Regions from separate parts of the Homo sapiens genome. Here all the other regions are linked to region 1. The links come from fine-mapping of genetic effects on gene expression. A gene starts in region 1. Each other region holds a variant in brackets. All regions are shown on one strand. Distances are between the middles of the regions. Region 1 holds the start of TAFA2 (TAFA chemokine like family member 2). Region 2 overlaps TAFA2 (TAFA chemokine like family member 2). Region 3 has its middle 24 kb from the start of TAFA2.

The links.
Region 2: its variant is fine-mapped to the expression of TAFA2 in breast (GTEx, PIP 0.92).
Region 3: its variant is fine-mapped to the expression of TAFA2 in whole blood (TOPMed, PIP above 0.99).

Annotation. Positions count from the first base shown.
Region 1 is chr12:62,189,738-62,200,371 of GRCh38, forward strand. It overlaps TAFA2 (TAFA chemokine like family member 2), which reads right to left and starts at 3,036. Exons shown (of 5, transcript NM_178539.5): 1 at 1,522-3,036. RefSeq lists an enhancer at 2,428-2,961 and a silencer at 4,331-4,625.
Region 2 is chr12:62,115,962-62,126,595 of GRCh38, forward strand. All of the region lies in intron 1 of TAFA2 (TAFA chemokine like family member 2), which reads right to left. Among named protein-coding and RNA genes, the nearest start is that of TAFA2, 71 kb to the right of the region's middle. The variant A/T (reference allele first, on the strand shown) is at 6,233.
Region 3 is chr12:62,211,939-62,222,572 of GRCh38, forward strand. It overlaps a transcript of TAFA2 not described here. Among named protein-coding and RNA genes, the nearest start is that of TAFA2, 24 kb to the left of the region's middle. The variant T/C (reference allele first, on the strand shown) is at 3,282.

The DNA of each region.
Region 1 (10,634 bases):
ATGCCTAATAAAGCAGTTTAGGAGTGTTAATTGACAACTCTGAATGTTGATGTTTAAAACAATCTAGTTGAGAAGACAAGAATCAGATAATTATCATTCAGTCAATAGTAACTGAAATTCATCCTGTCCTGTGTGAAGGACCCTGCTACACTACCAAGTACTTTGGGGACACTTCAGAGTAAAGGTTGCTTATGAGTTTGCTTTGTGTGTGTGTGTGTGTGTGTGTGTGTGTGTGTGTGTGTCTGTGGTTTTTAAGGTTTTTTTTCTCCACGAACCATTTTGTAAAATCCAAGAGGGGATTTCATACTCACAAAAAGATAATTTTTTCCCTCTCTCTCTCTTATTGCCATAATCAAACTCACGCAGCAAAGGTGAAGAGAGACTAGCCGCTGGAGTAACATTACTACACATTTGATTCCAAACGCTTCAGGCAATTGTTTAACACTCGGTCAGGACGTGGAATACTCAATAGGGAAGCCTCGCGTCCACCCAAAGGCTCTACGAGCGTCTATGGTTCTTCCTTTTCAGACAGGATAACTCAACCTGCAGTTCTGAGAGAAATAGGGCGACGGATCTCAAACTTTCCTTTGCAAAGCCAGTTTCTGAAAATAACACGTTCCCCCATTGATAAGTGAAGATCAGTAGCCTCAAGAAAACAATACTTGGTAGGCACCTGGCCTTTCAGAATTGAAGGGGGAAGGAATGGCAAAGCAGTTAGCAGAAAACCCGGGTACTAGTAGCAAGATCCGGGAGACATCTAACCGGAAAGAAATAAAAAACCATTAGTTTCCCGAAGCCATTCTTATTCTGAACGCTGTTCGTTAAGAGAATCATTTACTAAAGCTCTCTTGTAGTAGCCTTTACAAAAGCTTTATTTCATTCAGTAAGAAAGCGCCCCGTCCCAAATCTAAATAAACCTTACATAGATGAGGCTCCGGAAATTATCAGCTTGATTCTTTATGAAGATAGTTAGAGGTGGATAAATCAATAGACTCGCTGAAACACCCACCTTCTGCAAACAGGCCTGAGAATTAACTAATCAGAAGTGGACAAAAAGTAGGGATTTCAGAAAGATGACCTGACACATCCCATTGATCTTCCCTGGAATGCGACCCCCAACTCCTTATTAAGAGTCCAAAATGGTTACCAGCCAGGATGGGTCTGGGTGAGGAATCGAATTACAACCCACTTCAATCCTCGACCTGGTCGTTTGCTGTTATTAGGAGAAATGGGGCAGAGAGGGAGGGCACCGCTCACGGAGCCTCATTTCGCATGCTCCGATCCCCTCTCGGCGTCCCTCTACTCCGCCCCTACCCTGACCGCCCGCGAGGGAGACGCCGGCCGATGGACCCGCATCTGCCCTCACCTCTCGCCTTCCCCGGGCGATCCCTCTACAGTCCCGGACCCCCGAGAAAGGGGAAGGGAGACGTGTGCACACGGGGGCTTCCGGGACCGCGGTCCTGCAGTTGCCGCTCCGGTCCCCAGCGCTGGCCGGCGACCCGAGGCGCGGCTCGCACCTACCTGCAGCCCCGCTTCCCGGTGGCGGCAACACCTAGCGATGCTCCTGCAGCTTTTGCGGGCCGGCGCCAGCCTTATCGCTCTCGCATCGCTTCCAAGATGCCAATCCGCCGTCACCATCCAGGGGCATAGGGAACCGAAGTCTGGTGCTGTGTGATCGTGGAGGGCGGCGTGTGAGTGTGGCCCTGAGCGTGCGAGTGTGCGCGCGCGTGTGTGGATGTGTTTCCTCCTCCGATGGCAAAGACGGTTCAGGAATCTGACATCCAAGCTGGAATCCCCCTGAAGCGGGTGAAGGTGAGCCTGATCCTTCTCCCCGCTTCTTTATTCCACAGTGTCAAAGTAATCAAAAGATTTGTTTACTGAGGAAAAGCCAAAGTCCCGCAGCCCTTGGCAGCGCCCGCGGTCGCCTCCTGTCCTCGCCGGATGCGCGCGGTGCGCTCAGCTCCCTGGACTGCAAGAATCAAGGCGGTCTTGCTGCAATTACCGCTCTTATTCCATCTCTGATTTGTTTGCTTTTAAGGCCGACTAAAGACTTTTCCTCTCGCCTCACGTCGTCTCTCCCTCTCACACACACACACACTCACACATCCTCCGTTCCCTCTCTCCCGCCCTCCCTCTTGTTCTCTGGGGAAAGGCAATTGGACAGAATGATTCACCTTCAGGAAAGCAGCCTCGGCCACGCACTTCTCGAGTTCCCTGGCTCTCGCAGGTACCGGGTCTCCAACGTGGCGGAGTTGCTGGGAAGCTCGGGACAGGAAGGAGGAGAGGCTCTGAGCTCAGCCGATGTCCCCCCTCCAGACGCCCGCGTTCCTCCGTCCAGGTGCCCCTGTTCCCACTGCTCGCAGATAGGTCCCCGCTGGTGCCCTCGCGGAGACTTGGCGCCTTCCACTCGAATCCACTTAGCAGCAACTCCTGGCCAGCTTCAGCCCCTCAATCCCGCCTCGAAGTGCTGCGGGCAGAGCCCCACGCAGCCCACCCGCTGCCCTTCTAGGCATCGTGGGCTGGAAGGAAGGGAAACCCGCCGATGTCCCCCTGGTAGCAGTGCCCTGGCACCGTCACCACCGAGGAGGTGCGAGTTCCAACATCGAACACAAGCGAGCAGGTGTCGCCTGTGTCACTTTGCTAAAGGCGGGAGGGGAGAAAGAAAGGAGCGGGGGGAGGGGGCCGAGGAAACAAATCCAGATCACCGGCGGAGAAAGAAGCCGTTTAGCAAGCAAAGCCTCCTCTCCGCGTCCCACCCCAGATGCTATACTGTCAAAAGACACTGATGCTAATCTTTTAGAAAGTCGCCATAAAGGGCAGAGCCCCTGCTCCACTCTAGAACCCTATTCCACCCAGCCTGGCTGTCCAGTGAGTACAGAGTGACTTGGCTCCCCCGTATAGTGCAGCGAGAATGCAGGAGAATAGGTCCTGACACTCCAGGTTGAGTTAAGCAGTAAAATGGAATGGCAGGGCCGGGCGGCGTTGCCTCGCCTCTCTCTCCCAACAGCCAGTTCTGTTAGCCCCAGCAACTGCCGTTGAGAGCAAACAACGGTCCTGCAGAAAAAGAACGAGACAGTAAAAGATGAGGAGGCAACTGGTATAAAAGCTGGACTATGTCTCCCTCTAGAGGGTCAACCGGATTAGAACGCTTTACTAGATGTAACAGACCAGTTTCTCTCCATAAAGAAAAAGAAAAAAATATCTGGTTTCAGATAATTTGCATTTTTACAAATTACAACTTCTCAAGGATTTAGACGGAGGATTTTCACTGCAGCCCTATTAAGCAAAGCCCTTGCTAAAGGAACGTCGTGATATTCATGACGCTGGAAGGTCATGTCCTTACATGTTTGGTCAAATTGGGTGTCGGTTTAAGCGCTGTGCATATGAGCTCAAATGAAGGGTCTTCTGAGGCTCACTTCGATCATGTTTGGAGATGAGCAAAACCTTAATCTAGTGATTAGAAGACTATTCAAAAATGAATAATTAGTAAGAATGAATTCAGAAAAAGAAAATCTGAAACAAAGAAAGGGAATGCTGACCCAGGAAATTTTACAAGTCCTTTACAAGGAAAGATAACTCAAGAATCTGGTTTTGGAGCCAGTTTTCATACCTCTTTTTCAACTAGACCAATAATGGTCAAGATAGCTAAATTCCTTCCAGCTCTAAAGGTCTGTGCTTTTATATAGCTGTGATTCACTGAAACCATTGACAAATTAGGTATCACAAGCTCTCTTCACCAGCTATAAAATAAAAGTAATACTACATACCATATTTACAAAGAAATATAGAATATGTGCTTCACTTAGCTATTTTATCTTAACATGCTTAGTAAATCAACCATATTTTGTATCTAAAATGCATCAAGTAATTTAATTATGTTGAGGTGGTCATTTTTATAAAAAATAGCTCCACCGATTTTATAAAGTTTTGTTACATCAGTCCAAATCAAGCTAGGTCCCATCTGTAACCTTAACATTTAGATTTTTGTGAACTTACTATTTGAGCTGGGGGTTTGCTTTCAAAATGTTTCTGTATGTTCAAAAATTGTAAAATGTGTATTAAAGTTATTATTAAACACCCTTCCATTCACTCTGAATTTCTGGAGCAGTTCTATTTTAACTTGATAATCTAAATTAGCACAGTCATAAAGAAAGAAAAGAATGTATTTTTTAAATAGCTGAGACTAGTTGAAATCATTTAAAACAAAGCACCAAAACTAAACAAGGCAAGTTTTACCGTAACTAATTGCTCTATGGCATATTTGACTTTGTCTAGTAGTATACAGCAATCATTTGTTTCCAAGGATCTCTCAGATAGTCTCTTTCAAAAGATTTATGCCATGTGATTAAATATTTCATTCCACTTACATAGTAACTTATATCCAGGAAAGCAACGTTTACATTTTAAAACACCTGGCACTGTTGCACTGCAAATCTTACAGTATTTTTTTGTCTGCTGTGTTCAATAGTGTGATGAAATTCAAGCAGGAATGACATTGGAAACTTGGACTCTGTACTAGAAAGAAGTCACTTACAAAATCACTTTAGAACATTGGCTTTCTTTTCACACACACACACACACACACACACATACAAAAAAACATAAAGCATACATTATAATCTTTCTACCTTCTAATTCATTAACTTTTTGTGGTTGTAATCTATAGTTTTGTCATCTTGTTAAAATTTTATTTGTATTGTTTAAGTGTGGGACATTTTCAGCCTTATTTTTCTAACTAAACCCACTGTGTTTTTACAATATATGAAAAAGTAAAGAGAACAGATATATAAATTAATTACAAAATAGAACAAAATTTCTTATCCAATGTCATATGATGCTGAAATTCTATCATAACCTCTGTGCTTTTTGTAAATAATTCCCAATAATTTTTAGATCAAGATATTCCTATTTCCAGCATCTCCTAGACAAAATAAAATCTTTTGCATTCTCTTCAAAGGAAACAAAGTAGTAAAGATTCTCCTAATTTAACAGAAATTTTTTGTTGATACTTCTTACCTTCTACAGGCATGCCTCAAAAATGTTGCAGGTTTGGTTCCAAACCACCACAAATATTGCAATAAAGTGAGTCACACAATTTTTTTGGTTTCTCAACACATGTGAAAGTTATGTTTACACCATACTGCAGTCCATTAGGTATGCAATAGCATTTTGTCTTAAAAATGTACATATCTTACCTTGAAAATGGTTTAATGCTTTTTTTAAAAAAAGTGTACTGATGATCTGAGCCTTCAGTGATTCCTAATCTCTTTGCTGATGGAGAGTCTTGTTTCAGTGTTGATGGCTGCTGATGGATCAGGGTAGTGGTTGCTGAAGGTTGGAATTGCTGTGGCGATTTCTTAAAATAAGACAATAATGAGGTTTGCTGTGTCAATTGACTCTTCCTTTCACAAAAGATTTCTCTGTAACATGCAATGCTGCTTGATAGCATTTTATCCACAGTAGAACTTCTTTCAAAATTGGAGTTAGTCCTCTCAACTCTGCCACTGCTTTATCAGTCAGGTTTATAAAATATTCAAAATCCTTTGTTGTCATTTCAACAATATTCACAGCATCTTCACCATGAGTAAATTCCATCTCAAAAAAAACTACTTTGCTCATCCACAGAAGCAACTCTTCTAGCATCTAGAATGGTGAATGATCTCCAGAAGCTTTTCAATTTACTTTGCCCAGATCCATCAGAGGAATCATTATCTATGACAGATGTAGCCTAGCAAAATATATTTCTTAAATAAGAAGACTTGAAAGGCAAAATTACTCCTTGACCTATGGGCTGCAGAACAGATGTTGTGTTAGCAGGCATGAAAACAACATGAACCTTCTTGTACATCTTCATCAGAGCTGTTGGATGACCAAATGTATTGTCAATAAGCAGTAGTATTTTGAAAGGAATCTTTTTGTGAAGCCAGTAGCTCTCAACAGTAGGCTTAAAATATTTAATAAAATATGCTGTAAACAAATGTGCTGCTATCAGGCTTTCTTTTTCCATTTATAAAACACAAGCAGAGTAGATTTATTATAATTCTTAAGGGCCATACGATTTTCAGAATAGCAAATGAGCATTGGCTCCAACTTAAAGTCACCAGCTGCATTATCCTCTAACAAGAGAGTCATCCTGTCCTTTGAAGCTTCGAAGCCAGGCACTGACTTCTCTCTAGCTGGGAAAGTCCCAGATGTCATCCTCTTCCAATATAAGGATGTTTATTTACATTGAAAATCTGTTGTTTAGTGTATCCACCTTCATCAATGATCTTAGCTAGATCTTCTGGATAACTTGCTGCAGCTTCTACCTAAGCACTTACTGCCTCACCTTTTACTCATGTATTATGGAGACAGCTTCTTTCTTTAAATCTCATGAACCAACCTCTGCTAGTTTCAAATTTTTCTTCTGAAGATTTTTTACCTTTCTTTCAGCCTTTATAGAATTGAAGAGAGTTAAGGCTTTGCTCTGGATTAGACCCTGGCTAAAAGGAATGTTGTGGCTGGTTTGATTTTCTATCTAGACCACCAAAGCTTTCTCTATGTCAGCAATAAGACTGTTTTGCTTCCTTATCATTGTGTGTTCACTGGAGCAGCACTTTTCATTTCCTTCTTGAACTTTTCCTTTGCATTCACAACTTGCCTAGCAGTTTGGCTCAAGAGGCCTAGTTCTCAGCTTTTGACATGCCTTCCTCCCTATTAAGCTTTTGATTTAAAGTGAGAGACATGAGACTCTTCCTTTCATTTGAACACTTACAGACCACTGTAGGGTTATATTAATGGGCCTAATTTCAATATTAGGTCAGGGAATAGGGAGACCCCAGGAGAGAGAGGGAGTTGGGGGAACAGCCAGTTGGTGAAACAGTCAGAACCACACAACATTTATTAATTAAGTTTGCCATCTTACATAGGCACAGTTCATTGCATCCTAAGACAATTATAATAGTAACATCAAAGACCAGTGATCACAGACCGCCATAACAGATACAAGAATAATACAAAAAGTCTGAAATATTGTGAGAATTACCAAAATCTAACACAGAGACATGAAGTGAGCACATGCTGCTGAAAAAATGGCACTGAGGGACTTATTCAACACAGGGTTACCACAAACCTTAAATTTGTAAAAATAAAAGAAAATAATAATAATAAATAAAAACAATATTTGCAAAGTGCAGCAAAGAAGGGGTCTCCAACCCCCAGGGACTGGTACCCTCCCTGTTAGTAACCCAGCCTCACAGCAGGGGTGAGCTGTGGGCAAATGAGCATTACCGCCTGAGCTCCATCTCCTGTCAGATCAGCTGCGGCATTAGATTCTCACAGGAGCCTGAACCCTATTGTAAACTGCACATGCAAGGGATCCAGGTTGTGCGCTCCTTATGAGAATCTAATGCCTGATGATCTGAGGTGGGATGGTTTCATCCCGAAATTATCCCCCACCAACTGTCCATTGAAAAAAATTGTCCTCCATGAAACCGGTCCCTGGTGCTGAAAAGGTTGGGGACTGCTGCAATAAAGTAAGGCACAACAAGCTGAGGAATAGCCATATTTGTTTAAATTGCCATCCTCCTCAAGTCTAAGCAGTAAAAAATAATTTCTTTAAACACTGAACTTAACTGGATTGTAACTCTATCATAGCTTTCCATGTTCTGTTCGCTAAAAATCACTTTGGTGCACTTCAGGCTTTTTCTTTTTTGCCTTTTATAGAAAATTACTTTATTGAAGTATAATTGATATACAATCAACTGCATGTATTTAAAGTGTACAATTTGATGAGTTTTGACACATGGGTATATCTGTGAAACTACCACCAGTCAAAATACCAAATGTTTCCATTCCCCCAAAAGTTACCTCATGCCCATTTATAATCCATATCTTCTTCCAGTCCTGTCTCTAGCATCCACTGATCTAGTTTCTGTCACTATAGTTTGCATTTTCCACAGTTTATATAAATTGAATAGTATTTTATGTGTTCTTTTTTTGTCAGGCTTCTTCCCATTGGAATAATTATTTTCAGATCATCTGTGTTGTTGTACATAGCAATAGGTCATTCTTTTTTACTTCCAAGTAGTATTTCACATTGTAGATATACCACAATTTCTTTAACCATTCACCTCTTAATGAACATTTGGGTTACTTCTAGTTTGGGGATATTAAAAATAAAGCTGCTATGAACATTTGTGAAGAAGGCTTTGAGTGAACCTATGTTTTCATTGCTCTTGGGTTACTACCTAGAAATGAAATGGCTGGATCATATGGTAGGGTATGTTTAACTTAAAAACAAGAAGTATTTTCTAAAGTGTCTGTGCCATTTTGTATTCCCATCTGCTGTGGTGGAGAGCTTTTGGAGCACTTCTAGCTTTCTACAAAAGGCTTTGTATTATATCCAAACTCCTTACCTCAAATCCCCACAACATCTCATAAAGCAGACGATATAAACCCACTTATCACATGAAAAAAAAAATGAGACAATCTACCTGTTATTATATATTGGAGCTGAGATTCAAACCAGATCTATCTAAAGTCAGAGCCAGTCATTGATTTTTTGTTTGGCTTGGTTTTGTTCTTGTTTTTGTTTTCCCAGCCTCCTCTCTTTCTGCCTCCAACCCCTGTATCACAGGGAGATCAAACTCATTTGGATCTGGATATGGAAAAGGCTTTAGCCAGAGAACCTGGGTTCATTAGTAAGAATAAAGAGAAGAGATTAGTAAGAGAGATAGAATAAGGAGAAAAATTAGCTCTGGCTCCCCGCAGTGTTCTGCAAGATACGGTATTATAACAATTAAATTAAAACTTACGAGTCCCAGTTCATAGTTCTTAGCTTGTAGGATTGCTACCTACAAGCCATTCATCCCCACTTGTCTCCTCTTATTTTATTTGATGTTAACCAAGTTATTTCTAACTTATGCAATAATGTGTCTCTCACTTATCTTTTAAATGTTTTTTAAAAACATTTACAGAATATTTTCATGTAATCAAGTGAATGGAAGGAAGCACAGAATTCATTCCACACAACCCAAGGTTACATGCATGTTATTAACTTATGCTATCCCCATCCCCTAGCATGGTACCTTACACACAATAAATACTCTATAAATACTTTGTGGTCAAAACTCAGGAAACCAAACAGGCCAACTGAATAGACACATGCCATGGAGATAAGTCAAGAAGACCATTTCACAAAGTGATGTGAGAAACAACTGAGGCAGGAAAACTGTCCTACATGTAGTAGGCAAATATAACAAACCACCCCAAAACTTAGTTACTTAAAGAAGAAACATTTATTTAGTTCACATTTCTGTGGATTGGCAATTTGTTTTTGGCTCATTCTTCCCGACTCGGTTGGGCTTACTCATGTGTCTGAAATCAACTGGCAGTGCATTGCCTCCGTCATTATCTGACAATTGGCTGATTGTAAGCTGGAGTACTGGGGATAAGTAGGCCACATGCCTTTTTATTTTATTTTACTTCATTTTGTTTTAAGTGCCTGGATACATGTGCAAGACGTCTAGGTTTGTTACATAGGTAAACATGTACCATTGTGGTTTGCTGCACCTATCAACCCATCACCTGGGTATTATACCCCCATGCATAAGCTATTTATTCTGATACTCTCCCTCCCCACACCCTGCCAACGCCATCAGGCCCCTGTGTGTGTTGTTTCCCTCCCTGTGTTCATGTGTTCACATTGTTCAGCTCCCACTTATAAATGAGAACATGCGGTGTTTGGTGTTCTGTTCCTGTGTTAGTTTGCTGAGGATAATGGCTTTGGGCTCCATCCATTTCCCTGCAAAGGACATGATCTCATTCCTTTTTACAGCTACATAGCATTCCATGGTGTGTGTGTGTGTATGTGTGTGTATATATATATATATGTATGTGTATATATATATAAAACATTGTCTTTATCGAGTCTATCACTAGTGGGAATTTGTGTGGATTCTATATCTTTGCTATTGTAAATAGTATTGCAATGAACATATACATGCATGTATCTTTATAATAGAATGATTGATGTTCCTTTGGGTATATACCCAGTAATGGCATTGCTGGGTCAAATGGTATTTCTGGTCCTAGGTCTCTGAGGAATCACCACATTGTCTTCCACAATGGTTGAACTAATTTACATTCCCACCAACAGTGTAAAAGTGTTTCTGTTTGTCCACAACCTCAACAGCATCTGTTGTTTCTTGCTTTTTAATAAACACTATTCTGATTGGTGTGAGATGATATCTCATTGTGGTGTTAATTTGCATTTCTCTAATGATCAGTGATGTTGAGTTTTTTTCACATGCTTGTTAGTTGCATATATGTCTTCTCTTGAGAAGTGTCTCTGTTCAAGTCCTTTGCCCACTTTTTAATAGGGTTGTTTGTTTTCTTCTTGTAAATTTGTTTAAGTTCCTTGTAGATTCTGGATATTAGACTTTGTCAGATGGATAGACTGCAAAATTTTCTCTCATTCTGTAGAATGTTTGCTCACTCTGATGATAGTTTCTTTTGCTGTGTAGAAGCTCTTTGGTTTAATTAGATCCCATTTGTCAATTTTTCCTTTTGTTGCAATTGCTGTTTATGTTTTCATCATGAAATTTTTGCCCGTGCCTATGTACTAAATGGTATTGCCTAGATTTTCTTCTAGG
Region 2 (10,634 bases), 74 kb before region 1:
GAATAACAGAAAGTCATATGGAGAGAAAAAGGAATCATTAACTAATCTAGGAAAGTAACATTTTAAATAAAATTGAATATTAGTTCTTTAGTCTGTTACTGAAAAAAAATGAAAATAACTGGCACCAGATTTTCACAAAATTTGGAGGGTGTGCTTGGAACTCTTTGACTTCAAATACGTACAGTGTGGCTAACCCAAATTCCACTTTGAAGGGACCTGAGAAGTACCTCAAACAAGACAGATAGCTATCTTTCACAGCAGCATACACTGAGATGCACGAAGCCCATGTGGCTACAATTGGAGGAGACATACCTGAGGCATGCATACACAGAGGAAAGCCTGTGTGAGAGCCAGGGAGAAAACACAGTAAGACCTTGTGGACAGAGAAAACGTAGTGGTTCTAAATATAAGCCCACAATCATTATCACAACGACAGATGCTTCTAATTACAGGTGTTCCATTGCCATTAAACTGCTCTCATGTGCAAACCTCCATAAAGTATCTTGTAGGCTCTGGCGTATGTGGCAGCAGGGATTTATTTATTTAACAGTGGTTAATTTTTTCAAACAATTAAGAAGGAAGCCTTTAGTCCTCAATAAAAATGACAGGGATTTAGGGATAATGGCACTTGCAAATGTAAAATTTTTCCTCTAATTTTGGGTCTTTGCTGCTTTCTCACGTACATCTGTGATGTACAGACTGTAGGCTTTACTGTTGTGTCCCAGCAGAACCTAGAACGGGACCTGGAAAACAGCAGACACTAATTATGGAGTTAAGTCGTGGGAATCACAGTAACAGAAATGGAGGTTGTAATGGGCTGATCTGTGTTCCTCCTAAACTCATATGCTGAAGCCCCAGCCCCTAGTTCCTCAAAATGTAACCTTATTTGGAGATAAATGAGGTTGTCTATTTGGCCACTTTTATCTATTTGGCCATTTTAAATAAGTTAAAATTAGGCTGTTGGGGTAGGACCCTAATCCACCATGACTGGTATCCTTAAAAGAAGAGGAGACACCGGGGATGCATACACAGAGGAAAGACTAGGTGAGGATCCAGGGAGAAAATGGCCAACTGCAAGCCAAAGAAAGAGGCCTCAAGAGAAACCAAATCTGCCAACTCTTGATCTTGGACTTCTATCTTCCGGAAACTTTGAAATTTCTGTTCTTTAATATCACTCAGTCTGTAGTATTTTGTTATGGCAACCCTAACAAACAGATGTGAATAAGTATCTGGGCTTCATTACAAAATAGTATTTACAAATTCTAAAGACTGCCAGTTGCTTTTGTAAGCTGAAATTCCTACTCGTTTTATTGGTTAGTTCCTGTGTTTGTTTGGATCTTGCATATGCCCTCATTATATTGGCATTGTGTTATATTTGCAATAATTCACAATAGTTTTAATTTTGCTATTCTAGAATGCTTCCAATTTTGTTTTCTAAATATAAAAAAAAAGTGGTGCATTTTAGGAACTATGTTTTAGTAAATTAGATATTTAGATCTGAAATTCCACATATTGACTCACAGTATTCAGCCTGGGACCCCACATATTTCCAACAGATGTGTTTAGGCTGATTATTTAAATGCTCAACACTTCAAATGTTCCAAGTATCTTATCTGTATTAAAACTGGTTTCAGTACTGTCTCAATTTTTTCTTTAGAAAATATATAAAATATAATTTAAGTGAGCACCAAGAAAATGTAGTAGAATGAGTCCTATGTTTCCTTTTTTATGTGATAGACACAGATAACCTGGGAATGAGTTCTTAAAGCTGTTTTTCTTATAACATACAATCTAAACATGCATTGATAAATAATATAAAAATAGCAACAAAATAGAGCCTGCCATGCCAACTCTTAAAATATAGCTAAAAACTGAATTTCCTTAATATTCATCTATTTTGGGAACTAGTTCATCTTTTTTTCCTCTTTGTACTTCAGGTGCACAGAATTGGATTAATAATAATCCGTGGCTTATAACATACTCTCAGCATTGGTAATTGTATGACCCACTTTTATCTATTTGGCCATTTTTAATAATGTGATAAGTACACATGAATTTTCCCAAAACAAATATTGGGGCTCTGATTGCAACCCACATTCAACTATGCAGTCACCTCATATGACATCCCTCTGAATCTTCAGATTTGAGGCAATAACCAAATTTCATCCCATACTCATTATTCCCTTTATTCCCTTGCTGTTGTACACAAAGAATAATTACATATATATGTATCTAAAGGGATATTTTAGTTTTTAACTCTATAAAATGGTATCATTAATTTTTTAGAACTTGCTATTTTTGTGCAGTATTATATTGCTAAAATTTATTCATATTTGTAAATGCTGTACTTCATTCATTTTACTACTGTGTCATATTTTAATGTGAATATACCACAGTTTATTCATCCACTCTCCTACTGATGTCTATTTAGATTGTTTCCAGGCTATTCCATTCCAAGTGGCAATGATGTTAACATCTTTACACATATTTTTGTTGTATATGTAAATGAGTTTTATTGGATATCTAGGAGTATAATTCTGAAGTCATATGATATATGAATGTTCAATTTTTCCAAATTGTTTAATGTTTTTTAAAATGATTGCACCAATTTGCCCTCCAGTCAGCGAAGAACATTCAGTGGACCTATTTCCTCTCCAATAATTGACACTATCAGGCTTTTATATTTTCTTCCAAAAGAACAGTGTAAATTTATGTTGTATTATTATGTTTCTTTGTGTTTTCATGATCACTAATGGATGTGATATCGTGTAATAAACATCTCTTCATATGTTTGTTAGTCATATGAGTTTTCTCTTCTGTGTCTATTTATAACTTTTGCTACTTTTCTTACTGATTTGTAGATAATTTTTTGTGCTCTTAACACCAATCCTTTGTCCGTTATGTAGATTGTCAACTAGTTTGTGACAGTACTTCTCACTTTAAGACATCTCTTTAATGAACTAAAGCTTTTAATTTTAATATAGCAAAATATATGTCTTTTCTTTTATAGTTAACATGTTTTATGCCTTATTTAAGAAATATCTTTCTACATCCTAGACCTAAAAACCATTCATCTGGATTATCTACTAAGTGTTTAAAGATTTGCTTTTGATACTTAAATCCTTAATCTATATGGAGTTGTTTTTTCATGTAGTGTGAGGGAAGGACCTAGTGTCATGTTTTCATAGACATTTAATGAATTATTTACTCTTCAGGCATTGATCTGTAGTTACTGGAAATTATTATTACATTATTCTTAAAAAAACACTCCCAAATTTTACTACTTACATAAAATTCTAATTAGTTATATAATGTTTTCTTAAATGAAAAAAAATTTGCATAGTAGGAGTTGAGGTTACCAATACTATCAAATACAATCAGAATGATTATAAAAAGAAGAGAAACAAGAAGATGATTTCCCCGAAGCATCCCCAATCGTCTCAACAAGGCATATTTAAAAATCTGTTTTGACTAACTGGAACACACACAAATTCACACATACATATATACACATACACCATACACAAAAGTAACCACAATATGGGAAAGGCAAGCATAATCATTGCTCCACATATCCACTTCTATTTTCATTTTTGCATTCCTACTATGACATAATTTGTTTTACCTCATTTTTGTATTAGCTCTTTTGAACGCTGCTTTAAATGAAACCGAATTAACCTGTACCTTATAGATAAGTAGGTCACAAATGAAGAAAAGGCACACCAAAAAGTAAATTAATTGCCACATATCCACTATTTCAGAGGAGCTCTTGTTTCTCTGTTTCTGCTCCATCATGGTATGACTGCATCTCTGTAAAAGCAAAAGGGTTTGGCCGGGCACGGTGGCTCACACCTATAATCCCAGCATTTTGGGAGGCCGAGACGGTTGGATCACCAGAGGTCAGGAGTTTGAGACCAGCCTGACCAACATGGAGAAACCCTATCTCTACTAGAAATACAAAATTAGCTGGGTGTGGTGGTGCAAGCCTGTAATCCCAGCTACTCAGGAGATTGAGGCAGGAGAATCACTTGAACCTGGGAGGCAGAAGTTCTGGTGCGCCATTGCACTCCAGCCTGGGGAAAAAGAGCGAAACTCCATCTCAAAAAAAAACATTAAAAAAAAAAGTAAAAGTGTTTAATTTCCAAACCATTTAACAAACATCTATTAAACATCTACTATGAGAAAGTGCTGTGCTAGATACTGTAAAGAACAAAAATTTGCTCCACAATATAATCAGGGAGCCATAAATAAATCTAAAATAGGCCCATCTATGTCGTTCCACAACTGATATACCCACAAATGTTGACTGACTTCAACTACGTCTGTAATTACTAAGCACGTAAGAGGATATGGCATTGTACATTTCAATGGTCTCATTAAATAGGCATTTGTATTTCTTTTTAAAGATTCCATTTAGTAATTTCATTATGTAGGAAATTTAAAATAGAAGCAGTCAATAGCGGTAAAATTTTTAAACAACATCCATTTCCAGACATGCTTCAGACTATAATGTAAACATTGGCATAGAAAATGTTGAATATTACTAACATATTTGATGAAGACTTTTCTCCAAAACTAGAGAAGAAGAGAAAGTAAGAAATAGTCTTTCCAAACTCTTCCTTCGTGTGGTATGTACAGTCAAACACAACTCCAGCCTACTCAGTTACTTGGCTTTAGGTTTCCAGCTGACCCAACAGCATGACCAGCTTCACATAAAGGTATGAAAATCTATAATGCCCACTCCAGGCTCTCTATTTTCCAGTCTCTCCTGTTCTATCTCTTTATGCACTCCTGCCTTTACTCCAGAGTCTCTAGTGGGGTATCCCATCTAGGCCTTCCATTTCCAATGGCTGCATTATGGTTTCTTTATTATTATTATTATTATTTATTTTATTTATTTATTTATTTTTGGAGATGGAGTTTCGCTCTTATTGCCCACGCTGGAGTGCAATGGCGTGATCTCGGCTCACTGCAGCCTCTGCCTCCTGGGTTCAAGCATTCTCCTGCCTCAGCCTCCCGAATAGGTGGGATTACAGACGCATGCCACCAGGCCCAGCTAATTTTGTATTTTTAGTAGAGACGGGGTTTCTCCATGTTGGTCAGGCTGGTCTCAAACTCCTGACCTCCGGTGATCTGGCTGCATCATGATTTCTATGAACTACCCTAGGTAAGTTCAATCTCTCCTCACCTCAAGGTTCTGCTCAGTATCACATTCCCTATGAATCCCTCTTGGGGTCTTCCATGATAACCCCTACCTAATCTCATAAACATATATACACCAATATGAGGAAGTTAGAAAGACTTTATTCCTGCCGGGGGAGTGAGTATCATCATAAGGCTTTCAAGTCAGATATTTAAAAAGTATAGTGCCACAAAAATTTGCGCTTGTAGTCAGAGACCTCAGATTAAGTCCAAAGTCCACAATGATTTGTGTGTAACATTGAGCCAGTGATTCAACTTTACTGAGACTCAGTGACTAAATCTATTAGTTATGAGAAATAACGAATTCCCATGAATGCTGTCAGAAATTACATGATGTATGAGAGAGTATTTTTAAACTATAACGTGATCTAAAGTATAAGTGATTTTCATCTTATGGCAATGATTCAACCACCAGGAAAGATATTAAATTTGGCATCTCTCAAGATATTCTGTAGTAATAACCTGTTTCAACTATGCTAAGGATAGGACAGCCAACAAATTTGTGAGAAAAAGAGATAATTATCTAAATCATGCCTCTATTCAATCACTGACCCATTCATTTGAGGGTAAAAGCAAATGTAAGGTTCAGGAGATAGGACAGTGACCAAGGTAGACATAACCCCTGTTCTCATGGAGCTTATATTCTGTCCATGGTTCAAAACAACTAGAAAATGTGGGAAAGCTGCAAGCACAAGCATGACCATTGAATTCCCAGGTGAACATCACTCTTCCTGAAATCAGTGTCACCTTTGTATTTTACTGAAACCAGAAAGAACAGAGATGGAGCTTAGCAAATTAACACAGGAACAGAAAACCAACTACCACACATTCTCACTTATAAGTGGAAGCTAAATGATGAGAACACATGAACACACAAAAGGGAACAACACACACTGGGGCCTTTGGAGGGTGAAGGGTGGAAGGAGGGAGAGGATCAGGAAAAATAACTAATCGGTACTAGGTTTAATACCTGGGTGATGAAATAACCTGCACAACAAATCCCCATGACACAAGTTTACCTATGTAAAAA[A/T]CCTGCACTTGTATCCCTGAACTTATAAGTTTTTTTAAAAGCCCATGCTATCTGATTTACCTCAATGAATCCGCCTGTGAGATCAGCATATGATCTGCTCCATCATTCTCAAAGAGCAAAAGACAAAGTAGTCTAGATGAAACCCAGGATGTTCATAACGAAAAGCCTAATGGAATATTTCTACACTTGAAAAAGTAGGATATTTCCTTCTGTTAGAGCAACACATCAGCTCTTTGAGGATAACAGCTAACACTCAGGCTCTAGGTGCTCCTTTAAGCATTGACTTTTTATCTCATTTAGCCATTACAACTCCAGGTAGTAGGTACTATCATTATCGTGTGGTTTTATAAATGAGGGGGAAATAAGGCATAAAGAGGTTAATAACTTGAGCTAGGTCACACAGTTATTTTCTGATGAACCCAAGATTCCAATGTATTACATAGTCCATATATACCCACCGTACTGCACTGCCTCTGTATAGATTCCTCTCAATGAGTGATTGATAACATACAAAGGGCTAGGAACCACTCACTGTTCCATATAACCCCAATCACCACAGAATTCATTCTAGGGCACTGGGTACATTGAGAAACACCATTCACACTGGCTTGGTGTGAACTGCACCGCATAGGGGTATGCAGCACACAAACAGCATAATCCCACACTGTGACCTGCAGCCCCATCATAAACCATACCTTCTTTTCCATGGCCTTTCTTATGTTGCTTTTCTACCATGGAGAACCCTCTTCTCTCATCTCAACATGCATAAAACCAGTCATCATCTAGCTCATATCACCCTTGAAGCTTTTCTAGGCTCTTCCAGCTACAGGTATCTACATATTTCTCCTCTGAACACCTATTTCATATTCACTTTATGGACATTTTGAACTACTGCTTAGCATTTAGATACATAACATTTTGTATTTTACCAAATACGCTTATATACTCAGCCACATTTAAGTTTATCGAGGACAGAAAACAGCTTTTATTCCCTCTCTCAACTGCATACTCTCTCTCTATGCCCACACTCCACACCTCATATAGCACTAGAAGCTCAATAAGTCTGTTTGGATAGTTGGTGGACTAATTGATTAATCTATTGAATAAACATTCACCTAAACTTAAATAATCTCCAAGAGTTGCTATCTCAGATGTAGGTGCACACACAATGTGTGGGCCTGTAAGGTAATAGACTGAAGAAGGGAATAAAAAAAAAAGCTTTCACTGGGAAATTGCCCTAAATATAAAAATCACAAGAAATGGAAATGTATAAGAATTCAATCTGAAAACTTTTAAAGGGAGAACAGGCTAACTGGAAAAGTAAGAAAAAAAAAGTGGTCAGATCTTTTCAGGATCTGAAAATCAAATGCTTCTCCTCATCATTTCTGTCATTTTTCTTCAGAAGATGTAATATATCCCCCACATTTGAAGTATATATTAAAATTCAAATGGTTAACACTTTATACTTCTTCATTCTACTTTCTCCCTCTCTCTCACACACACACACACATACATTCTGAACCCTCCCCCAACACACACACACACACACCTACCCCACATATTCTCAAATCTCCCCCACCACACACATACACACACACACACACACACACACACACACACCACCTTTTGAGGGAGAACTAGTTCTAAACCATCAAAATCGCTCCTGAGATTGGTTCATGAACTTGGGCTCCCTCTGCTGGGTCTGCAGCAGTACAACAGACAAGTCTGTAGAGTTAGGAGGTTACAGAACTTATTCATCAAATATTCTCCTGTTTAAACTCGAATTTAAGCTGACTAGCCTACAAGATGCAACAATTTGGAAACAGAAAAGATTTAGAAGTTGGATAAATTAGTAACAATAACTCAAGACAAGTGGTTTTTAAACCACTGCGAATCAGTATTTTTGCCCCTGCTTATTTCCATTTGTAGAAGAATGGTAGAATTCATCAGAGAATCGCAAAGATTGCAAAGATAATGATATAAAACTGTACAGAAAAAAAAGCTTCAAGAGATAAGCTCTGGATTACATATGTATTTGTCAGAAATAAATGCAGATGAGTATGACCAAAGGTCATATAAGGTCTCTAAGTAAGATTTCTGAGGAAGTTAAAAAAAAAAGGGAGTTAAGAAGTATTACTAAAAGAATACAAATCAAAGCTGTTGATAACATCACTGAAATATATTAGCCAACCCAAGAGTAGAGTATATTGAGCCTACAGTCACACACACCAAGAAATAAAAGAAAATGGAATCACAAAGTGCATTCCACATTTACTAAGGATAACAGAAATGTAACTTATACATCAAAAGGGAAATAGTAAATATTGATTGCTGTTAAAAGGAAATGTTATCTCTCATTGAATTGATTTGGTGTTTATTATAAAAGGAGAATGGTTAAATTGGCCTAAAACAAACCATCAGACCAGAAAAAAAGAATGAAAATAGATCTAAGACCTTTAAAAATTAGGAAATTATATATAACTGTCTGTAATATTATTTTCCTTAAGATAGGCTAGTATTCAACAATAAATACATCTTAAATCAATCCCAGCGTGATCTTGCAGAATCGTCAAATACACAGGGAATTGGATATTCCACGGCTTAGAAATTCCAGTACAGATATTGGCAGAACCTCTAGTTACTGGTGTAGCCAGCCCATATCCTTTCTCTATTGTCAAATAATGCACTGTTGTAAAGGGTCAATCAAGACTCCAGCCCATAACTCACTACATAATTTGAAATAGCCAGTGCAAAATGAAAATGCAGGGCCCCTTGTTCAAAAAAAGTACCAAGAATTTCAAAACAGTGAAAACGGAGCAGGAACCCAACCAAGTCAACTCTTCTAAGCACAGCTCTTTTAAGATGGGTGATAGTGAACTTTCATGTACATAGAAAGAGGTTGGGGAAAAAGCCAAAAAGGATTCTATGAGCACCTGAGTTGTAAAACAGACGTTCACTCCCTCTGCAGAATTGTATACCTTTTATTTTTTTAAAAAATTAATAATTACAGGAATATGATTGATAGGAATTCACCCTTCCCCTCTGGAGTCCTCACCCTTAGAAATATCCAGGGACTGACTGATTGAAAACAGAGCAGGAACCAAACCAAGCAAACTGCTCTAAGCACAGCTCTTCTAAGTATGGGGCCCTGTGTGACTACACAGATCACATGCCCATGAAGCTGGCCCGGCTCTGCCCTAGTTTAGTTGAAGGTTAGCAATAACATATCTTCATGCATCCCCAACCTCAGCATTCACAGACGAAGACACTCATCTTACCGTCGTGAAGAATTTCCTTTCAGAGAGACATCTTTACTAAAACGGTTCAGTTTAGTTTAGTTCCCAAATGCTAAACGGTTCAGTTTAGTTTCCCAAATGCTCACTGAACCTGTTAATAGGGCATATTTGTGTTCTGTCTATCCAAGTTTGGTATGAGAGACAGAGCACATGTTTAGAGAACCTAAGATAACTCCCGCAGATATTTTTTTTCTTTTGTTTCCTGTGAGGAGTCGCACAACTTAAGTTGTTAAAACACAATCTTCAGCGTCGAACTGCCTGGGTTCAAATTCCATCTCCACCACTGACCACCTGTATGACTTTGAACAAGTTACTTAAACTTTTTGTTTGAGTCTTTCTTTAAACTTTCTGAGTCTCTGTTACCACTAGCAGATAATAATAGTACTACTCATAGGGTTGTTTATTGGGATATACTGAGGCATTATTTATAAAGAGTTTAACTCAGTGCTTGGCATATAATAAGTGAATCTGATATTATCATCATATAATAAATTTTTTTCGCATATATTAGAATCCAGATCACGGAAAACCAGCTGGTTGTCTGTGGGCCACTTGGCATTTGAAAACCAGTTGTCTTAGTGTGGTTTAATGGATTATTCGCTATAAAATAATTTGAAATATAGCTCCCCATATTCTCCATATTTTAAAAGTCTTTATTAATTCATTGATTTTATAAACATACATTGATTCTCTACTCGCTGACAAGCATTATGCTGAATAGTAGGGATGAAAAGATGAAAAAGATTACCTTTCTGCCCTAAATGAGCTCACCAACCAGACACTTAAGTGGATAATTTTAATACAATGTGCCAAGTGCATCAGCTGTTGGGAGACAATTCTCCATGGGTGGCTCCCATTTCTGCACTTTCCAAGCAAAGGCATTAACATATATTTCGTTCCAGATTAGCTGTTCAGGAATGTTTTTATGTCAAACTGCCTTGGAAGGTAGAAATAGTGTCTCTTTCCAGGGCAGAAGGCAGGTTTGTTTTCTCACTAGGATAATAAAGATATTTTTTCTTTCCAGGGTAAAGTTTGAGCAGGTTTGCTGGCATCCTTTTGAAAACATGGAGGTTTCCAAAGTTTGAGATTCTTCCGTTGTGCCACAA
Region 3 (10,634 bases), 22 kb after region 1:
ACAATTATAGTAACTATTCTACTTTACATTTCAAAGTAAATACATCCCAAAAGTCAATACTCTGTCAGTAGTAACTTTATTATTAGTGACCCACTTCACAACAAATTATCAACTAGTATGAAACCTGTAGTCAAGCAATAAATATTGTTAAAGGTAATAATTTAATTATCCTTTGTGATTCAAGATATACAGCAAATCAGGGAAAAGCAGGTAGAAAGAAATTTGGTGTATAGTCACCATTAGCTAACAGAATTGGAGAGGAAGTTTCAAATAGTACTCAGCTTTCCTTTATTTCCAAAAGTTTGTATTCAAAATATCCCAGACCCAAAACCTTCCTGTCATTTTAATGATATTCAGCAATGGAAATTCAACAACCTCTCCAAGAATCCACCTATAAAGAGGTGTTTCATTGAGCCCTGTATTTCACACATAAGCCTACTTCTTCAGGTTTTGCCCTTTAAGGGGTTTGGATAAGCACATTTTCATCTCTTTATGATCATGATTCATATTCCCCAGGGATACCCTCTAGGAATAACTCCTTTCTGCCCCCATTAGACACTTTTCGAGCTTGCAAACTATTATAGCTGAGCCTACCAAAGTCGTCTGACATCCATGAAGGAAAAGTCCCTCTTCTCCTCTGTCTGCTGAATAACGATTCTCTAAATATGTGTCCTCTTTTCTTGGTAGATAGAATTGCTTTCCTTTGAAACCCTGTTACAATAGTTGAGATTCTCATATGCTCTGCCGAAAAAAGGTACTAATAAAAGCGAAACATTTGAAAAATCCTCTTTTTTATTCATTTGGCATTCTAAATTATCAAAGGTGTAAGCCATTTCTCAAGAGAAATAAATAAATTATAACTGTACTGATACAACAGATTTCTTAATGATTGCATTAATGAGAGCAAAAAATACACCTAACCACATGAATCCAAAAGATATAAATGTTAAGGTAAAAATTATTAACAGAAGATTAAAACTTTTAATATTAGAGTGCTTAAAGATGCCTGAAAATAAGCCTAAATATATTATTGCTATCTGAAGTCTTTGCTTCATATGCTAGTTCTAAAAAAAGTGCAATTATGAAATTATATAAAATAGAGGCCGCAAATTTTGGCCCATCTCTGAATCAATTCATACCCGGGAGCCACTATAAATGCCTGTCTTTTCTTTTGGATTTACACCAGGCAGCTGCTCATATACCCCACCACGGTTCATTCCCTTCTTACTTGGGTAAGGGTCACAGTTAGAGAAGTAGTAAGAAGGATGAATGGAATAGTGTTAAAGCCATGCTTCAGAATTCAGGTAAAAACAAAATCCCTAGGTGTACTCTGTTTATGGATAAGCTGCCTAGTTTTCAAGATGATTACCTGAACCATTTAGGTAAGTTCAATTTGTTAAATAATTATTAAAAGTATAAGTTGCAGCTGGGCGTGGTGGCTCACACCTGTAATCCCAGCATTTTGGGAGGCCGAGGTGGGCAGATCATGAGGTCAAGAGATTGAGACCATCCTGATCAACATGGTGAAACCCCGTCTGTACTAAAAATACAAAAATTAGCTGGGCATGGTGGCGCGTGCCTGTAGTCCCAGCTGCTCAGGAGGCTAAGGCAGGAGAATCACTTGAACCCATGAAGCAGAGGTTGCAGTGAGCCGAGATCGTGCCACTGCACTCCAGTCTGGTGACAGACTGAGACTCTGTCTCAAAAAAAAAAAAAAGTGTAAGTTGCCATTAGGTACTCCTGTGTGTGGTGCTGTGCCTTGTTAATACACATGGTCTTGTCTTTCAGAATTTACAATCCAAGTTAAATAATAAATACTTATCATCCACTGAAATTCATTAAACTCAATTATTCTTCTTTACTCCAAGAGTAGGTAGCCTCAACTTGTGAATAAGATACCTTTCAAGATTTTTATATATTGTTTTGAACTCAGAATGTCCCCATCCTATAGAAACTCATTAAGATGGAAACTAGGTTCCTAGACCTGTGTACAAACAAACAAAAAACTATTAAACACAGAGATATCGAATCAAGTTCCCAGTTTGCATCATTACCAGTATGTAAACACTATTTGGACTCTTAGCCTTTTGGGGAACTAAGAACCTAATGAAAGCATGTACTTCTAAAATTTCACAAACCATTAAGATGCACCAGGTTAAGAAGGGTTGATTTAGCCCCTTGTTTATTTAGGAATTTAACTGCCAATGTGAGAAATAATCCCCCTTATAAGAGGCTGACTTATGGCCCCTAACCCCAATATGGTTTGGCTGTATGCCCACCCAAATCTCATCTTGAATTCCCATGTGTTGTGGGAGGTAATTGAATTACGGGGGCAGTTCTTTCCTGTGCTGTTTTCATGATAGGGAATAAGTCTCACGAGATCTGATGGTTTTCAAAATGGGAGTTCCCCTGCACAAGCTCGCTCTCTCTTTGCCTGCCACCACCCATTTAAGATGTGACTTGCTCCTCCTTCCTTCTGCCATGATTGTGAGGCCTCCCCAGCCATGTGGAACTGTAAGTCCATTAAACCATTTTTTCTTCCCAGTCTTGGGTATGTCTTTACCAGCAGCATGAAAATGAATTAATACACCCCCAAAAATTTATATGTTGAAGTCCTAACTCCTACTATCTCAGAATGTAACTGTATTTGGAGATAAGATCTTTTTTAAAGTAATTAAATTAAAATGAGGTCTTTAGGGTGGGACTTAATCGAATATGACTGGTGCCCTTGTGCCCGTGGACACAGACATGCACACACACAGCAATATCATAGAAAGATAGCCAAATAAAAAGGCCTTGGAAAAAATGAACCTGCTGACCCCTTGCTCTGAGAAATCTAGTCTCCAGAACTGTGAGAAAGTGAATTTCTGTTGTTTAAGACATCAGTCTATGGTACTTTGTTATGGCATCCCTCACAAACTAACACACACACCCATTATCCCCACCTTCTAATATAATATGCCTCAAAGCAGTGATAAGAAGGGATACCACTCTAGAGATACTATCTTTAAAGGCTCCATTTATTTTGATAACCATTTCTACTTACATCCCTGCACCAATTCTGAGACCCACTCTCCTGACTCAAAGGGGCCAGACTAGAGAGAAAAGGAAGTTGTGCAACTCTCACCTAAGAGAGAGTACTAAGAAGTGAAATCATTACTTTTGCACAAGCTATCTCTGTATATCCTCATAAGAGACCAAAACTTTCCAAGACAATCATACCTCCAGGTTTTGGAATTGAAGAACAAAAGTCAATGTCTACTTGTTCACATTTTGGGTTA[T/C]TGGTAAGTCAATTTTTCACAAATTGTTTATTAATTGAATGCAGATGTGCAGTCACCAAAAGCAGCCCTGTGTGTCTTATCTCTAAATCATTTGAGTTTTCCCTTCTCAGTAGTTGCTCCAACAGTAGGAATAACCTGAAATGGGAAAAGGCAAGGTAATAGGATACAAGAATAACAAATTTTCCAGAACATCTCATAGCCTGGGGAAGTACTGACATTTTCACCAAGCTCTTGCTATTCAACTCTGCTTTTTAGACACAAAAAATTAAATAAGTACAATCTTACTCAGGGAAAATTTACTGCAGCCACAGTCTCTGCTGGAAAAAAGAAAGAACTTGTCTTTCAAAAAAAAAAAAAAAAGGGGCGGAAGAACTTGTTTCTCTTGCTTAAGAGAAACAACTCGTTTATCAAAAAAAAAAAAAAACAAGAGGAAGAACTTGTTTTTCTTGCTTAAGAGGAAGAACTTGTTTCTCTTGCTTAAGAGAAACAACTTGTTTCTCTTGCTTAAGAGAAACAACTTGTTTCTCAAAAAAAAAAAAAAAAAGAGATATGACACTTGCAAGTTACATTTTGTGTGACCTAAACTCCCTGAATCTTGGTTTCTTATTTGTAGACAGAGAGCTCTTATATAATAGCAGCTACTCTAATGATAATGGTTGTCATGAGCATCAAATGAAATTTTATAAGAATTGCTATTTGTAAAGACCAGTGGGTTTTGCCCATCAAAAGATGGGGTTTCTAGAGACCCTGTATCACCATGGCAAGTGAATAAAGTAACAGTTTCCTCAATCCTTCCCCAAGGGGACAGTACCAAAAGCCATTTTCTCAACTAAGAAAATACCCAAATGTTTCAAGGACTTTTGGACACAGAGTCTGAGTTGACACTAAAGCATCATTACATTCCTCTGTTAGAGAACCAGCATATGGGGGTAAAGTAACAAATGGAGTCTGGCCAAGTGCTATCCAATTGCGGGTCCACACACCTATCCAGTAGTCACTACTGCCATTGCTAATTGAATAACAATAGTGGACATGCTTGGTAATTAGCAGAACCCCCATGTTGGTACCTTAGACTGTGGAATAAGACCCATATAGTAGAGAAAGGTAATTTTAAACTCTGAAACTGCTCCTTCCCAAGACAGTAAATTTTAACAAACAGCATTTCATCTGTTTGTTAGTGTGGGTATTGGGGAAGTGGTGGCAGAGATTAATGACACCTTTAAAAACCTACATAATATTTGGTTGCTGATTTTCATCCTATTCCCTTTCAACTGACCAGCAAGGACCCTACAAAAAACAGACATATCTTGGAGAATGACAGTAAAGTAAGGCAAACTCGATCAGAAAAGTAGTTCCAACTATAGATGTTGTCCCAGATGTGGCTTCTTTGCTAGAGCAGATTACCACAAATTCTTAATACACAGTATACTATTGTTGATCTGAAAAACGCTTTATTTTCCAATCTTATTGGAAAGATCAGAAATGGTTTGAATTCACTTGAAACAGATAGGTGTATATGTTTACAGTCTTACCCAAAGCTAGGTTAATTCTTTTGCCCTCTGACATAATGTATTTCAAAGATGCCCGAACTGGTCATTTGTCAAAACATAGCATTGGTTCACTATTTCAGTGGTACCATATTAATTGGACTAGACAAGCAAGAAGTTAGCATATACATTACGGTATACCATATGCATTCCAGAGTGCGGGAGCTAAACCCTATAAGGGTTCAGGGAAATGCCATGTAGGTAGTATATGGGAGTCCAGTGATCTGGTACAAGCTGCGACATCCTCTCTAAATGAAACAAATTATTGTATCTTATATGTCTCTCCGCAAAAAGGGAAGCACCATGCCTGGTATTCTGGTATTCCTCTTTGGCTAACATGTTTAACATATTACATATTGGCAAATACTGCTTTTACCCACCCTCTAGATAGCATGAAAGGCTACAAGCTTTGAGTGGGGTCCAAAGCAGCAGACAGCCCTGCAGCAGGTACAGGGAGTACTTGGGCCATATGATCCAGCAGACCTTTCAGTATGAAAAGCATCAGTAATAGGAAAAGATAATATGTGGAGTTTATGGCAAGGCCCTAAAGTAAAACCACAATGTAAATACCTAGGATTCTGGATCAAACCACTCCATCTGAAGTAAGGAGTTACACACCATTTTTTAAAATAAAAGCTCTCTGCAGTGCAACTGGGCCCTGGTAGACAGAGAGAAAAGACAAAGAGTCTAATTACAGAAGATCAAGTGATTAATGGACTAAAACTGTCTGTTATGAGGTAGGTTCTCCCAGAGCTGCCCAAGTCAGCTGAAGAAAGCCTCTTGCCCAAGATCAAGTCCCTTTCCAGAGGGAAGCTCATTTTCAGTGACTGATCCAGATGTAAAGTTATAAGGCCCAGCCCTTCCTTCAAAGTAGGCCAACTCTGAAGGGCCATACCTGTTCCAGAGCTTCCCTCGAGGTGGCTGAAGCCATTATCACAATTGCATCACAGCTCAGCTCTCCCATGAATATTCTTACTTCCTCTGCTCTCTCACAGATATCGATCCCAAGGACATTCTTCAGTAAACTTCTTTCAGACAAATTTGCATCTTAGAATCTTTTTTCCCAAGCAAACATACCTGAGATGGGTACTTACCAAAATGCTATTGAGTTGAGTAAGTGAAAATGAGCCAGGAGAAAAAAGTTTTACTTCTGAACTTTTCAAAACTAATGCTGATTGAATTTATCTATTTTTATGTATGTATTTATTTATTTATTTATTTATTTATTTATTTATTTATTTATTTTTGAGACAGGGTCTCACTCTGTTGCCCTGGCTGGACTGCAGTGATGCGATCATAGCTCACTGCAGCCTCAGCCTCCTGGGCTCAATAGATCCTCCCACTTCAGTCTCCCAAGTAGCTGGGACTACAGGCACGCACCGTCACACCGGGCTAACTTTTTAAATTTTTAGTAGAGATGAGGTCTTACTATGTTGCCCAGGCTGGTCTTGAACCCCTAAACTCAAGCAATCCTCCCCGCTCAGCCTCCCAAAGTGCTGGGATTACAGGAGTGAGCCACTGCACCTGGCCTGAATTTTAATTTGTAAAGAAAAAACAGTGGAAGAAAGGAAATGAGGGAAGGAAAGGAAAAGAGTCTCTCCTACCCGTGTCTGATGAACACATCCCCTATTACTTGAAATGCTAGTATGTGATCAGTTGGGTAGGCTCACATCCCTAGTTATCAAAGTGAGGGATAATGTTAGCCTGGAGAACTACCACAATTTGCTATTCAGCAAAGAAAAAGCTAAATATCCTAACCCAACCCGTACTGTGTTTGCCTCCTGTGAAAATTCTGAATTTCATTCACTCATTTAATAAATATTTATTTAGCACCTACAATATGTCAAGCACAGCTCTATATTTTATAATATAGTACTACTATCTTTACGATCTTTATAGCTTTAAATCTATGAATGAAATAGATGTTTCAGATATTCTTGGATATAATATTATACATAGCCATTTATTTTCTTTCTCTTTTTTTTTGTTGCTTTCTCATTGCAAGTCACAAAGTCAATAAATCAGTGATAATCAGAGTAGATATCTAAAGGACATTTAAATTGGAATAGTTTTCTATTTACCAAAGATATTCTGAAGGACATTTTTCAGGCTGTTACACATTTACATAGGAGATTCAATAATATCATACTTGCAAAGTAGCTAGACATTATGACATTTTGGATTTGAGATGATAGAATTAAAATGACAATATAAGAAAACTGTAATTTACACATAATTAGAAAAGATGAGGACAAAATAGCATTTTAATTACTGACAATGAATAACATACCAGGGAGAATATAGCAAAAGAAAATTTAGTGGGAAAACATTTTTGAAAACACACAAAACAACTTAAGTTTCTCACAGTAAGATTATATCTCTGCAAATTGATGAATAAAAATATGCTCCAGCTTTGAAAAAAAAAACTTAGGTTAACATAAAAGAATTCAAAAACAAAACTAAGAGAAATTCATCTGTGAAATTACTTAAAGTGTAGAGATGAAAAATTAGCTTCGGTTAAAACTGTAAATGAAATCATAGGTCACAATTTTATTAGTCTTTAATAGAAAACTTGAAGAAGTTGCTAACACAAGTGCTTTTGGAAATGCAAAGCATTGGCAGATACAGGAGAAGGTTAGAGAATATTTACACACAGCAACCCCAGAATTTAAATTAAATCTACAGTTAGTCTAAATCACATAAACCTGAATTTTTGTATACCAAGGATGAAGTTATTCGATAATAATCAAAAGTTAATTTTAATAGAAAATTCCAAGTCTTGTTGAATTGAACCTTTGAAATTGGGTGTTTGTTATAAAAGAAACTTATTTTCTAAAGAAAAGTTTGTTCACTTAAAGTTGTAAGCACTATTTGTCATAAGGGGTTGAATTTGCTCACCAAATTTACAATTAAATCACTGACTATATAACCTAACTGCTTTTAATATAAATCACTCACCCAGTACATGAAAACTGTGCCTCCTTCTATTAAGTTATAACTATATCTGCAAGTGTTCCTCTTTCAATAGGTTGTTAAAGTAAAGAAATGATTCTAACACATTACCTTTAAAACACAACACAAAATCTCATTCTTTTGCAGAAAATACTCAACAAGCTAAGCTGTAGATATGAACTATTTTTAAACCCAGTGATCAGCAGATCAAAGAGAATATAAGATGAAAACTGAAAATACCTAGTACATTTTGGGAAGTGGAAAAATCTAGAAGAAAGTTATGGAGCATTTTTAAACAACTAAATTATTGAAATGTTACCAAAAATAAAACAACTGCTCAGATGCAATTGTTTTATTTAATAAAGGCAAAACCTCACTAGAGGCAGAAACAAGCCACCAAATAAAAAAAACCTAATGAAGTTAGAACTAGAACAAAGTAAAAGTCAAATGAAAGAAATGGAAACAATAAACTCAAAGGAAAAATCATTTTAAAAACTAATCATTACTTTTAAAAAATTACAAAATTACACCCACTTACTAAAAAGGAAAAAACTACAAATTAATAAAATGAGAAATAAAATATAAAAAACAAGACAAAAAATTTTTAAAAATATCTAAAACAATAATGAGATACCACTACACACCTGTAAGAATGGTCAAAATCAAAACATTACAACCCCAAATCCTGGTGAGGATATAGAGCAACAGGAACTGTCACTCACTGCTGGTAGTAATGCAAAATAGTACAGCCATTTTGGGAGACAGTTTTGCAGTTTCTTACAAAATTAATTGCGGATGCATGTCATCATATATTTGTCAAAACCCACAAAATATATAACATCAAGGGTGGATCCTAATAATAACTGTGGACATTGAGTGATAATGACGCATCAATGTAAGTTCATTGACTGTAACAAATGTACCACTCTGGTGGGAGATGTTGATAGTGGGGGAAGAGTATGCGTGTGTGTACGCAGTGGCATATGGGATCTCTCTGTACTTTCCACTCAACCTTGCTATTAATCTAAAACTGCTAAAAAAAAATAGTCTATTTAGAGAGAAAGAAAAGAACAAAGGAAGGAAGAGCGAAAAGAAAGAAGGGAAGGGGGCCGGGCGCGGTGGCTCACGCCTGTAAGACCAGCACTTTGGTGAGGCCGAGGCGGGCGGATCACGAGGTCAGGAGTCGAGACCATCCTCGCTAACACGGTGAAACCCCATCTCTACTAAAAAATAGAAAAATTAGCCGGGCATGGTAGCGGGCGCCTGTAGTCCCAGCTAGGGAGGCTGAGGCAGGAGAATGGCATGAACCCGGGAGGCGGAGCTTGCAGTGAGCCAAGTTTGTGCCACTGCACTCCAGCCTGAGCGACAGAGCGAGACTCCGTCTAAAAAAAAACAAAAACAAAAACAAAAACAAAACACAAGGGAAGGGAAGGGAAAGGAAGGGAAAGGTAAGGAAGGGGAGGGGAGGGGAGAAGGAAGGAGGGAAGGAAGGAAGGGGGGAAGGAAGGAAGGAAGGAAGGAAGGAAGGAAGGAAGGAAGGAAGGAAGTTTGAAAGAAAAGAAACAAAAATATTCACCAAAATACCCATCTCCAAATAGCTAGATGTACAGATCATTTTTGTATTCTTTGATATTCATTGTTCAAAAACATTGAAAATATTAGACCAACCAACTGATTTAGTAGGCATCTAGGTTGGTAACAGATACTAAGACTTATTACTGGGCTATGATAACTAAGACTATTAGTTCAGGGAAACTAATAGTCTAAGTGCTATTAGTTCAGGGAAAAACAAATAGATCAATGACTCAGGATAGATAACTCAGAAAGATCTATTCATATATGAATACTTAATATATGACAGCAGTGGCACAAAAGATTGGTGGTTTTTAGCAAATGGGTGTGGGATAATTGGGAAAAATAAAATTGGACCCTAACCTCTCATTGATTCATGAGAATCAATTCCAGGAGGATCAGAGAAGTAAATATAAAGACAAAAATGATAAAGATTTTAGAAAATAGAATTGGAGGATATTTTTATGACCCTAGAGAAGGAAATCATTTTTAAATAAGATGCAAAAAGCTCTGACCATCAAGTTAAGATTGAAAAAATCTAGTACATTAAGGTAAAGAATTTATGTTCACCAAATAACAACATAAAAGGGTGATAAGAGAAAGCTTAAAGAGGGGAGAATATATTTTTAACACGCAACTACAAAGTGCTAGTATTCAAACTCTTAGAAATCAGTAAGTTGGAGAAAAGAAATTGCCACAGTAGAGATTTCTAAACCATGTAAAGCAAAGAGTCTAAGAAGATGGGAGTGGACCTGAAAAAAAGTAAGATTAAAACAAGCAATGTTTATTTTAGGAAGTCGGTCTGTTTCTGTGATAGAGGGGTGAAGAGAGACATTGCATTGTAAGAACCCTCACAGATGCCTACCTGTGCCTATATGCCTACAGAGAAGCAAAGGTATAATAAACACACACACACACACATCTGGAGTCATAGGGAAATTTCACCTCACTTCAACACAGCCCTGGCTCATTCTCAGTATAAGCCACCTACATGTACCTTGTCCAGGAAAAACTTACCTCCCTCAAAATGAGTAATCAAGAAAGAACCAGTGCAGGATCTAATCAAAGAAACCACCAGAGAAAATTAATAGGGAGAGCTTAATGATAGACTTTTTTAAAACTTTCTTCAAAAAATACTGCTGAAGTGTAAGTGAAAATGGTGGCCCACACATTTTACCATGAAATCAACATAAATATTCAAGGATATTATTTATTATTATTATTATTATTATTTTGAGACGGAGTCTTGCTCTGTCGCCCAGGCTGGAGTGCCGTGATGCGA